Regions from separate parts of the Homo sapiens genome. Here all the other regions are reported to be linked to region 1. Evidence: microRNA targets listed by miRTarBase, many of them from high-throughput screens and not tested one by one. Region 1 holds a microRNA gene; each other region holds the end of a gene's coding sequence.

What was found. The annotated mature microRNA hsa-miR-548g-5p reads UGCAAAAGUAAUUGCAGUUUUUG and lies in region 1 at 1,795-1,817, shown strand. An mRNA with a match to its seed (bases 2 to 7 or 8) in the 3' UTR can be bound and repressed. Matches are read on the target gene's strand: a 7mer-m8 pairs with bases 2 to 8, a 7mer-A1 pairs with bases 2 to 7 and ends in A, and an 8mer does both.
Region 2: miRTarBase lists RCAN2 as a target of hsa-miR-548g-5p. The part of its 3' UTR that is shown has no 7-base or 8-base seed match.
Region 3: miRTarBase lists DCAF7 as a target of hsa-miR-548g-5p. Seed matches in the 3' UTR shown: 7mer-m8 at 922-928.

The regions. Positions count from the first base shown.
Region 1 is chr21:18,683,706-18,687,951 of GRCh38, reverse strand. It overlaps MIR548X (microRNA 548x), which reads left to right and starts at 1,788; the gene lies at 1,788-1,862. All of the region lies in intron 2 of MIR548XHG (MIR548X host gene), which reads left to right.
Region 2 is chr6:46,219,747-46,223,992 of GRCh38, reverse strand. It overlaps RCAN2 (regulator of calcineurin 2), which reads left to right. Exons shown (of 5, transcript NM_001251974.2): 5 at 692-3,257. The coding sequence ends at 852. The region is part of intron 1 of LOC105375079 (a long non-coding RNA gene); the gene reads right to left. Among named protein-coding and RNA genes, the nearest start is that of ENPP5, 51 kb to the right of the region's middle.
Region 3 is chr17:63,588,560-63,592,805 of GRCh38, reverse strand. DCAF7 (DDB1 and CUL4 associated factor 7) reads right to left here. Exons shown (of 7, transcript NM_005828.5): 7 at 1-3,806. The coding sequence ends at 3,634. Among named protein-coding and RNA genes, the nearest start is that of TACO1, 10 kb to the left of the region's middle.

The sequences.
Region 1 (4,246 bases):
TTGCATGTTCAAAATGTGTTTTGTTTTTAAACTTCAAGAGCACCTGCTTTGTCTGACTCTTTCTTTCCTAAATTATCATAGATTTTTCTACACTCTCTCTCCTGGGTAGAATGTGGTTGTGGTTGTGACTATTTCACATTATAAAATGATGACTGTATAAATTATTATACAAACTAGAAGGGGTTTTGGAGTGAAATGGGTCAATATCATGGTATAATAATTATACCAGCATCATAGGCATAAAATCTGACTGTTTTGCACCAACTGTAATAAATGGAGTTTTGTCCTGAGACCAGCATGATATGTGTTATTTTACATTATCCCTAGACAAGTTGATAACCACATGGGGAAATGAGACAGGACATGAGAGGAGTCCAAAAATGAGTATGATAATAGAAAAGTCCTGCAAAGAACAGCTTTTACTCAATCCTTCAAAAATAGTCTATTCCTGATTAGAGAAAAAGCGCTTGGAGTATTTAAGCCTCTACACACATCTCTCAATGTTTAAGAGCTGTTAGCAGGAGAACAAAAGTTCGGAGATAATAGTTCTCCAATTCTGTAGACAAATCTGATTCTGGCTACTTGTGCATAGTACATAGTACATGGTGCTAGAGAAGCAGGTACTTACTATGGGGAATAGAATTACATGGGGACTTTATGCAAACAAATGTTTAAGGAATCTGATATGATATGAGTGACACACTAACAGTACACCATAATGCAGGGGAGACTTACTAATATGGTTTGACTGCATCCCCACCCAAATCTCATCTTGAATTGTAGCTCCCATAATTCTCACGTGTTGTGGGAGGGACTCATGGCAGATAATTGAATCATGGAGATGGTTTCTCCTATACTGTTCTCCTGTTAGTGAATAAGTCTCACGAGATCTGAAGATTTATTTCCTCTTTCACTTGTCTGCCAAGACAATGTAGACTTGTCTGTCTACATTCTCTCTTGTCTGCCACCATGTAAGACGTGCCTTTAGCCTTCTCCATGTTCGTGAGTCCTCCCTAGCCACCTGGAACTGTGAGTCCATTAAACCTCTTCTTTTTTATAAAGTACACAGTCTTGGGTATGTCTTTATCAGCAGTATGAAAACTGACTAATACACTTCACTGTCAATCTCTAATTTTCAAATTGTGGCTAGTTACAATTTCTAGGGGAAAAAGTTATACGAAAAGTGTTAGTGGCAGGAAAAAAAGACTCCATCACTTGTTAGTCCAAAGGCCTTAATTGGTATTTTTATCTTACTCCTCTTCCATCTATTCTTGTATACCTCTTGTATATGAGCATGTGCAGACATGTTATAAGTTAAGGTTTCTTTTTTGTCTTTAAATATACTTACATTCCCTCTGGGATAAAATTGTTTAAAAGACTATAATTTTTCTCATTGAATAACCATGGAAATACTTTCAAAAATTTAAGCACATAAAAAATGACATGTTTCTGGATTTTCTATTCTGTTCCATTATCTATACATCCAGTTGTAAACCTCAGCCATACTACCTCTATGACTGGTGCCTAAAAGGAGTATATAGGGAGTCTTGGAAGAAAAAGGTGCTGCTCATCTAATTTTGTTCTTCTTCCTAGAAATCATTTTGTATATAATATGTCCTTTGGATTTCCATATAAAATTTAGAATTAGCTTAACAATTTCTACAAAGAACTTTGCTACAATTGTTTTTTAAATATGCATTGAACATATAGATCAATTTGGGGAGAGATACTATCATAACAACATTAAGCCTTCCAATCTGTAATCACATTATACATTGCAATATATTAGGTTAGTGCAAAAGTAATTGCAGTTTTTGCGTTACTTTCAATCGTAAAAACTGCAATTACTTTCACACCAATCTTAATATTTCGATCTTGTTTTATTTTTCTCAGCAAAGTTTTGAAGATTTCAGTAAACAGGTATGGCATACATTATGCTAAGTTTATTCCTGTGTTCATGTTTTTAACGTTGTTACTAATGGCATGTGTTGTATTAATTTTTATCTTTCTCATATTGCATTGGCAAGAATGTTGATGCAATATTGAATTTCAGTGGTTAGACTGGATATCTCTACTTTGTTCTAGAACTTAGAAGGAAATAATTCGTTTTGTTCATGTAGGGCCAGCTTCATGCACTGTACCTTGTACAGTCATACAAGATTTCATGCTCAGAAGTGCCCTGTTTTTGATTTAACACTCTCTTATTACTGCCTTAAATTTTTAAATAATTTTACCTCTGTGTTTTAAAAGTGCAGTATGATGGGACACTTGAGTACAAGTGTGAGCAGAGATGTCTGTGATATACATGTTCAGTTTCTTACTGTTCTATTCACATACAGCGTTTGTGATGCCACGTGAACGCAGAATTCTTGTGGACCCACAGTGCTTGAAAGTTCAGCAAGACTCTGAGTACAAGATAAGCATTTTATGTCTATAAATGAGTGAGCAAGGTTGACAACTCCAAGAGGCTACACTTTCCATTCAAAACCAGAACTCAATTCAATTGCAAACAAGCAGTGACTTTCCAATAAACACAAACAACCATGGAACCCTATTACATAATTTATTTTCTCTGTTACTTTACTGCATTATTTAACTACCTATGCTGAAAGTGACACAGAAGGAAAGGAAAAGAAAGAAGGAACAATAGTTCTTTTTTTTTGTCCTTGCTTATTACTTATTCCATCTATTTTTGTTGTTGCTTTTTACTTGCTCTTTGTCAGTCTTTTATTATTTTTGTATTTCATTTTAAATACTGTTAATCAACTATAACTATTTTTATGGTTGTTTTGTGTTCACAATATATATCCTTATGTTATTAGTTTATTTTAACATAATACTGTACCATATAAACACACAGTATAAGCAGCGTGTTATGTCCCAAAAACGGTTTCAGAAAATGAAAGGAAACTTCTACATTGGTAATCATTGTTTGATTATGTATACCTTAGCTTCCATCAAATAACAGCTTCCTTGCTTAAAAACTGTAATAGTTCATCTAGTTCAATTTAGTTAGTGATAAATTCCTCTAACTTTTGTTGTTGGGAAAAGTATCAGTTTTACCTTGATTTGTTGTAGATATTTTACTCTATATAAAATTCTAGATTGATGGTTATTTTTCCTTCCTACTTCAAAGATATTTTATTGTCTACTGCCTGGCATAGTTTCCTTTTTTTTCTTTCTTTTTGCTTTCTTTTCTTTTCTCTTCTTTCTTTCTTTTTTTTTTTTTTTGAGACAGAGTCTCAATCTCAGACAGGCTGAAGGGCAGCATCATGAACACAGCTCACTGCTTGACCTCTCACACTCAAGCCATCCTCCCACCTCAGCCTCCTGAGCAACCAAGACTACAGGCGCAAACCACAATGCCTGGCTATATATATAATTTTTTTTTTTTTTTTTTTTTTTTTTAGAGACTGGGACTCACTATATTGGCCAGGCTGGTCGCAAACACCTGGGGTCAAGCATTCCTCCTGTCTTGGCCTCCCAAAGTGCTGGGATTTCAGGCATGAGCCACCATGCCCCGTCCTGGCATACTTTCTAATGAGAAATCTGTGAACATAGTTATCTTTGATTTTCTATACACTATTACTAGATGTTCATCCACGGCATGTGTGGTTTACATTGTGCAACAGATTGAAGCAGATAAAAGCCATTGTCTGTACATCATACTTCTTTCTAATACATGCTCTGCAATTTTCCAGCCAAACCCACCTGTCTGAAATTCTATCTCTATCTCCTCATATCAAGGAGATTGTCATGCTGTGCTTTGGATACCTCTCTGCATCAAGTTCAAGAAAATCCCTTCAGACAGAAAGTCAGAGTAATAACCGAACTTACATCAATTTTCTCTCTTCTCTTAGAGTTCATAGTTCTGTGCTGCTTATGGTAAAATATCTGACAATTTATTAGTTCTACGTTTTATCCTGTTTCCTATTTTTGTAAGGCAAACAGACAAGTTCACATCTGGTTATTCTACCATAGTTAGAGGCTTTAAATTTTTATTTTAATACACTTACTATGGTGGCATTTTAGAGTTCTGTTTTTTTAAATTTTTGTCTTCTCCTCCTCCCTCTTCCACACCCTGCATTTCTGTTTGTCTACTCTTTGACTGATGCATTGTTCCAGCTCAGCTTTGAGCACGTTGGTTCCTACGCTATATGATGCCATCTTCTTCCTGGGAGCGCATTTTATTAGGTGATTTCTAAGTTCTCTTCCCTCCTTGTCTCTTTGTGTCATAGCAATGCAA
Region 2 (4,246 bases), not on the chromosome of region 1:
ACCTTGTAGCCTTTATGAACAGCAATAGACCACGAGAGATGCTCAAGAAACATCTAATGAAGCAACAGAAAGACAGAAAGCCAGTCAGCTAACAGCCATTTGACTGTAATATGAGCCAGTCAAGAATGTAGACACTTGGAACTAGAAAGGGCCTTGATGGTCATCTAACCCAGTTACCCAGTAACCACTGAATCCTGGGCATGTGATAACCCCACCTTATTCCATCCTGGAGCAGCTCTGGCTGTAAGAAGTGTAGAGCTGGAGGGGAACTCAGAAACTACCATATTCAAAAGATAAAGAAGTGAAGTGATTGGCCCAAGGTTGCTCAAAAACTAGCAGCAAAGTTGGAAAATAGAAGAGAAACTAATACGACTAACTGCCAAGTCCATCCAGTCCTCGCCACCATCCTACAGAGTGGAAGTATTACCATGTTGAAATTTACGGTAAAGGATGTGGAGGCTAAGAGGTATTGAGTGGCTTGTTTGGGGTTGCACAGTTGATAAGTGGCAGAGCCAGGATAGGAGGAAATTGATCTCTTTCCACTTGCCAACACCCTGTGCCATCCCTGCATAAGATCACAGGCTTCCTGAGACCCTGGAAAATGCTCCTGTCATTTCCTAAGCAGACCCTGCTCCAGGATCTCTTTTGAAATCCCCCCCTCTTTCTCACTTCCATTTTTCTTGCTTTTCAGGAGAGAAGTATGAGCTCCATGCAGGGACTGAGTCCACCCCAAGTGTCGTCGTGCACGTGTGCGACAGTGACATAGAGGAAGAAGAGGACCCAAAGACTTCCCCAAAGCCAAAAATCATCCAAACTCGGCGTCCTGGCCTGCCACCCTCCGTGTCCAACTGAGCTGCCTGCTCCTTCTCGATAATAGCCGTCTCCTCTTTATCATGCTTTTTCCCCCTGTTGTTTGTCAAAAAAAATTGCCTTTAAATTCCTGGGTGTTTGGTTGTTTGAGATTCCTTCCTTGTTATCAAGCCTCTCGGACAAAAGGGCTAGGAAAAGGTGATATGTCTCCTGATCATATCATACCCATTAAGTATAACCCATTATTTAGAAGGTTCTAGGGAAAAAAGTAGTATTTTCTTATTAAACAATCAGCACAGCCTATATCTTTGTTCTCTCATGTTGATCCAAGCCAGAGACATCAGTAACAAATAGCACCTGTGTTGTTTGTGAGCTGTTTCAGTCCCAGTCCTGATGTGTGTGCGTTGTTCTCTCCTGGCCACTTAAATAGGACCATATGTAAACTTGACTTTGACTGCATGAGATATCCCTATCTGGTCTCACTCAGTCCTCTGCATCCCAACATTCCCAGGACATGCATGATCACCAGCATTTATTTTCATTATTTGAGGATATCTTATAACTCACAGATTGTCAGCATCCAGCCATGTCCTATCTAGATTAGGAAAATGATCAGAATATTCCAGCTCAACAAGTCTGGGTATATTCACTATTGTGAGTCAATACACCATAGCTCTGTTGAAATTCCTGGAGGCAAAATTGACCTTGGCCCCAAAGATATTCCTCAATAGATTTCAAACACCACTCCCCTGTAGAACTCTCCCAGCCTCGTTGGGGAGGCTTGTCCAGGGTGATAGAGACTGATTTCAGACAAACCTATTTATTACAAAAGTTTCATGGTGTCTGAATGATTGTTTTCTCTCTTTGTATATTTGTACAAATGTTTCAGCTGTGCTTTTAAAAAATCTGGATGTTTTTTATTTAGTGATTGTTCGACAATTAGCTGCTTCAAAACATAATGTGCATTGCTTATGAATGCCTTCATATACTAATACAGATACTCTGATAATATTACACTCTAATAAGGATAATGCTGAATTTTGAAAGGACACAAAACATCTAATGCCAATATATACATGATTAGCCAACATCTTTGCTATCAAGACCACTTGTTTTTAAATAAAGATGCAAGTGTCAGTTGTAGATTATTGGGATGAAGCTAAATCCCCAGAATGCAGCAGCAGCTGAGCATGTTAAAATGGGGAAGGATGATAGCTACATGTATGCCGGTCCTACTCACGCGACACCCGTGTGCTCAAAAAAGTTATTTGTTTTTGTTACGTGTGATTTTTCTATTTCTCTAGCCCAAAGTGCATTACAGAAGATACACCTATAGAACCATTACCTTCTGCTATGTGTGCCAGGCCTCATCTACTCCTGTACATTAATGAATTACTTTAGATGCAAACGCAGATTACAATGGAGTGGGGAAGTACTTTCATTACCCAAGCCTCAGAAAAACACACAAGAACAATAACACAGCAAACAGATTGAGGGATTGTTGTGGTTTTTGACTAAGGTGTATGTTAGTTTCATCAGAAACTTAAAACATAGACTGATCACTCAGAAATTAAAGTCCGTTTTACTGTGAATATAGCAATATAGTACTGGACACAGTACTGGTGAAACTGAGGAGAGCATTGCTTGTAAAATCCTGAGTTTCCATAAGGAAAATGAAAACTCCTTTTAAAAATAAAATCTGAGGAGTGTACAATAAGCATATGCTTTGACTTTCCTTTGCTGTGGAGGTTTTTGGTTTTTCATTGATGATAAACGACTACAGACTTAGTAGTGGAGAAATGGTGTCCTCTAGTGGAAGAAATAGTAGGCTCCGCTATTCAGATGCAGAGCACTGCAGCATCCAGCCTTTCAAAGCTGACTCTTCTCAATCATCTGTGGGTCATTTGACTTGATTTTTTAAGCTACCCTGAATTTCCAGAATGCAGGTTCTAAAGAAATCTAGATGAGAGAAAGTATTTGAAAATGATTTTTAAATGTTTTTTAAAAGACACATCTGACATTTTTAACAACTTAGTAAAAGTTGAAATGACCATTCTGTGTAGTCATAAAAGAAACACAATGAAGTGTATGGCCTCTGGAGTTAGTCTTAGTAAAACTTATTGCTCTGTGTCAATGTTAACCTGTCTCAGATCAAGTAATTCTTTCACTAGGTTGGGTTTGGGGAGGGGGGAAAAGAGGGGCTTTTCCTAGGAGAACGATAAGAAATGGAAAGACTCCTTGAAGTGTTGCAAGGGAACCTCCTAGCACTGTGAAAGTCAGAATCGCCTCAGCATTTCCATGACGCACATTATGCAAATCTCTTTAGCACTATTTTAAGTTTGAAAACTTTAACAATGAAGGGGAAGGGGAAGATTTCCACCAACTGAATCATTTGTGCACGTGTATAGCTCAAAGAGCTTAGACTTCAAATATATCTGGTGAATGACTCTTTGTCCATGTGGTTTAATTTCTGTGTTGTCGACCTGAGTTGAATATTCTTGAGGGGTAATTGTGGGGGACTGCATTTCAACCTAGAGTTTTTCTAAGAAGTCCCCAACGTATGGGGTTAACCCATATACCTAGGCTCTTCCTGAAAGTGGGGGAAGCTGGTTGGCAGCCCTCTCTTGGGGGAAGGGGAATTTGAGCAGGGCCTGGAGGGCAGGGTTGGCCTCTGATAAGAGGAACTGGGAGAGCTCCCTGTTTTATTGCCATGTTTCAACATCTTGGTCCTAAAAGCCATTTCAAGTGTACTAAAAACCTCTTTTAATGTCTTCCCACTCTATTCTCTTGTTAAAAGCACTATAAGAGACCTGAGTTAGCAAAAAAATTATTATTCAGGAGAAAAGCACTATCATAATCTAAATGATTAATACATTAAATGCCATTAAAATGAAGAGCTTCTGTTCATCAGATGGGTATTAGGAGAATGAAAAGGGACAGCATCAGACTGGAAAAGGATATTTGAGACACATGTAGTTGTAAAATAAATTATATCCAAAATGTAAAAAGAAAACCCTACAAATAAGGAAAACAGACAATCCATTTCTTTGATCATCAAAAAATTTCAAAGGCACTTCATACAGGCAATTCACATACACACAGACATACACAAAATACCCAGATGACCCATTAGCATTCAAAAGATGCTCAATTTTATTGCTTATCTGACAAAAGCAAATGATAATCTCAGAGCTACTACACAGATCTATCAGAATGACTAAAATTAAGTCTGGAGAAATAAAAAGTTCTGGTAAGGATATGAAGGAAGGGGAACTGTCATGCACCACTGGTGGAGTGTCAACTGGTGCTCACTTCACAGCACTGTTTGGTAATATCTGCTAAAGCTAACATGCCTCTGGGAGCAATTCACTCCAGGGCATGCACCTAGCAGATACAAGTGCACACATCTATCAAAATACTTGTACAATAATGTCCC
Region 3 (4,246 bases), not on the chromosome of region 1:
AAACGCCTGTAGGTTTTTTACCACCAAACATCACCCATGGCTGCTCTAAGCTGTCATTTTGTTCCCACAGTTACCTAGCATCACGGATGCCCAATTTATGGCCCAGGAAGGCTGACCCAGGCTAAGGGCAGTCTCACTCCACAGCCATGCAATGGACAGTCTGAATGTTTCCCTACCCCAGACCTTCACTGACCTCTACTATTTCCTCCTCTGATATAAAGAAAACACTTTAATTTTCTCCTGCATCCTACATCTCCTCCTAAAATTTTGGCCCTAATTGTCATCAAAACCTTGTAGGATTCTGAATTTTTTGTTTCTTCCTGAATCTTAGCCAGTTCTCTCAGAGCCAATCCTGGATTTATAAGGAATTTTCACCTATTTTTTTTTTTTTTTTATTTTTTGAGACGGAGTCTTGCTCTGTCGCCCAGGCTGGAGTGCAGTGGCACGATCTTGGCTCACTGCAAGCTCCACCTCCCAGGTTCACGCCATTCTCCTGCCTCAGCCTCCCAAGTAGCTAGGACTACAGGTACCCGCCACCACCCCCGGCTAATTTTTTTTTGTATTTTTAGTAGAGATGGGGTTTCACCATGTTAGCCAGGATGGTCTCGATCTTCTGACCTTGGGATCTGGCCACCTCAGCCTCCCAAAATGCTGGGATTACAGGTGTGAGCCACCACACCCATCCTCGCCCAGTTATTAAATACCTTCCCTCTTCAAGTCCTAACCTTGCAGGCTAATTCCTCCCTGGAAGAAGAGGATTCCAATGCTCCTGAGCATAAAAAATTCAGGTCCTTGAATGACGTGGACCCATTCTCCAGCTCTCTGGTGGTAGAGGCCTGAGGCCTAATTTATTCAGCACCTCCATCCTTCAGTCAGAACAGATGAGGACAATACAGGCAGCTGTGCCTCAGGCTGCCAGGAGCAAAAGGGCCATCACCAGCTGGGCCACAGCCTGGCGGAGCCTCCATGTGGGCTTCCTGCTAAAGTCCTAGTGGCTGCTCCTCCCGCAGTCAGGGAGAACAGATCCAGGGCCTCCCACCCAGTCTCGCTGGCTGTCAGTTTGAGAACCTCAACAAATTACAGAGTTGTTTTTGCAACTACAACAGATCGGTGCTTTCTGGAGCATGGATGGCTTACAGACTTTCTAAATCCTGAGACTGTAGAAATCCCCTCCTCAGTCATGGGTCGTCGGGCTGGTGGAGTAAAGGGAGGGTAAGAGAGCTGGGACTCAAAGACCAGCAACTCATCAACTGTGAGTATGTGTGTGCTTGCTTAGGGGGGTGGAGTCCCCCTGGGTCCCCGGTGGCATTCAGGGGAAGACTGTACTGCAGGACCTAAGGAAGGATGACAGGAGCTGGGCGTCCACAGGGCAAGGGAAATCTCAAAAGTTGTTGGTTTCCAGAGTAAATAGCTATCTTATGCAAATATGTTCTAATTATTATTTTTTTTTCAAGTTGTTGTTTCTGAGTTCCAGCTGACAAATTCCACCATACAGACCAGGCGTAGGTGCAGATCAGGAAAGGAATCTTAGAACTCAGTGGATGTAAGCCCTGCCCAGCAGACCAGCCCCTTCTACCACTGACTTCCATTTCAGACCCTTCTCCACAGGAAGGAACTGATGGCCTCCTAAACAAGCAGCCATCAGCTTGGCCTTGCTACCCTTGAGAGAAGGACCCAGTAACCATTATCAAACACAATGAAAAGCAGAGGAGGGTTCTGACCAAGAACTGCTCGCTTTGTATCTCCAAACGATGCAGTGCAAATCCAGTGGCAAATGCAGGAGAGGCAACCACAAGCACATGGCCAGCCAGAGTCCTAAAATCAGAACAACAAAGTAAAAGGGTAGAAGGGGAAATATGCTGGCTAAAAAAAGAGCCTTTTTCTTTGGGACAGGTCCCTGTATGGTAAAGCAAAGAGCTAGACTTTTGGCATATAATGACATCTACTTCTGAAAAGGAAGACTTAACCAAAAAAGCTTAAGGGCCCAGAAGAACAAAGTTACTGTTTTACTTCTCAAGCAGGTGAGAACCAAAGAGGACAAAACCATCATCCTTCAGGCCTGCTACTCTACTAATCTCAGATGAGCAATTCAGAGGGACTTAAAAACCTTCGGGTAGGAGCAGAGCGCAAGGAAACAGCCAACTTTCCCCCAAGAGCACATCCCAAACTGCCTGCCCCAAGGGCTCATCTAACGGTGGAATCACACATATGCCCCTCCATGGAACTCATTCACATAACAGAAAGACACCTGCGGCCTGCAAGTCAAAAGACAACTGCAGGCTACAAGTCCAATACTGCTCAGAACCTAAACTGGGGGAGAGAGGGGTTGACAGGTGTGGGTAGAGCTCTTAACTGGCTGACCCTGGGGGTCTATAATTCCTTTTCCTTCTTTTTTTTTCCTCCCTTTTCATTACCCACAGTATAATGCTTTTTAACTATCTATCCACTTGACAGCCCAGGATTGCCGCAGTCCATCAGTCCATCTCTCATGTAAGGTCTTGTTCAGGGTTGGAAGCACAGACAGGATGCCTCGGGAAGACTCTCTCACCTCAGAACACTCAATCCAAAGAATGCCCAATATACCACCAGGCACAGTAAACTCAAACAACAGAAGCACCGAAGTTCAACTCAGATATCATTCTTGCCTATCATTGAAAAGACACTAAGTGGAATGGCCTGGGGCTTATATTTGGATGGAAAAACAGACTCTGAAAGAATGTACTGGAAATATGCTTGAAGTTCAGCTTCATGAAACGATTCCCCTCAAGTCAGGTACCCTGAGAGCCTGTTTCTCTCAGCTCTACCATGCTGCCAGTGGGAACCAATGGGCTGGACAGTGGTGCTTCAGGGTAAACAGAGGCTTCCTATGTCTGTTTACAAGCCCAGAATGCCCTTGAGAGGAGCCAGGCTAAGAAAGGTGTGATGAGTCAGTGGACTTCAGAGCACCAAGGTGGTTTGGACTCCCGGTCAGGTATGTACTACACAGGCAGTGACTCAAGAAGGCAAACTGCTCATGGGGCCAGGGGCCCAGTACCAGCTCCAGGCACTGAGGGAAGAGAAGAAGGTGCAAAGAGGGAGGACTATAAGACAAAGAAATGAAGCAGGAGAGTAAAATTCTTTTCATAAAAAAATTAGCCTGATAGATAACAAATATACAAAGTTAAAATTTGTTAAACACACTGATACTAGGAGAAAAGACAAATTGGTATTTGTTCCCACGTAAGTGCTAACACGAACATGGACATGGACGAGACATGAACTGCTGCCTTGGGCAGCAAACAGAGACACCTGGGCAGAGGAATAGACACAGCCAGTGCGTGAACTGCTCCTCAACACAACGCCTGACAAACAAATATACACACATTTTTTAATTGAGGAACCAAAGGAGAAGAGGAAAGGAGAGAAAATCTTAAAACTCAGCCCTGGGCTGAGGAGGCGCCACACAGCACTGAGTCTGCCACAGAGGGCGATGGGGTGACTGGCCAGGAACTCCTAGAGCAGCTTCTGGTAACAGTGGGTGCAAAGCAATGAAAGACATACTGGCCACTGGAAACATGTTTCTTCTTACTTTGGGGGTGGGGCAGAGGCAGGAAATACAAAAGCCCCTGCCTCGTGGGCACAGCGCCACCAACACTACACTCTGAGTATCTCCAGGCAGTTGTTGTAGCAGATGGCGATCCAGTCGGGCTGAGTTGATGCCCACTGCACATTGTTGATCTCTCCTTCAGCTGTGTAGGCCAGGATAGGGTCCTCAATGGCTCGGGGCATTTGCTGGATGTCCCAGATGAGAGCCTGGTGGTCATCCGCTAGGGACAAAGAAAGCCAGCAAGCAAGGTCACAAGTGAGGCAATGCGGATGATGATCCCTGCATTTCAGGAGCAAGTCACAGTTTACAAAGCACCCCCGTGATGGCGGTTCTATTTTAAGCCCCCATTTTATCGATGAGGAAATCGAGATTCAGAAATGTTAAGGCACTTGTTCCAAATCACACAGCTATTCAGCCAAGTGAGTGGCAGAGCCAGAACTCAAATCTAGGCCCTGACTCCATCTCCCAGATGTCCCCAGGCTCTATCCACTGCACTAATGAGTCCTTCTCATCTGGGTCAGGTATCAGGAGTGGACAAGGGGATACCAAACATGTCATTTGCAGCCACTTAAAATACTTGAGTGGTTACAAAGATCATTCTCTGATCATTCAATATAATGAGAGCGTTTCTTCCCTGTTTGATGGACATTTATGCTTCAG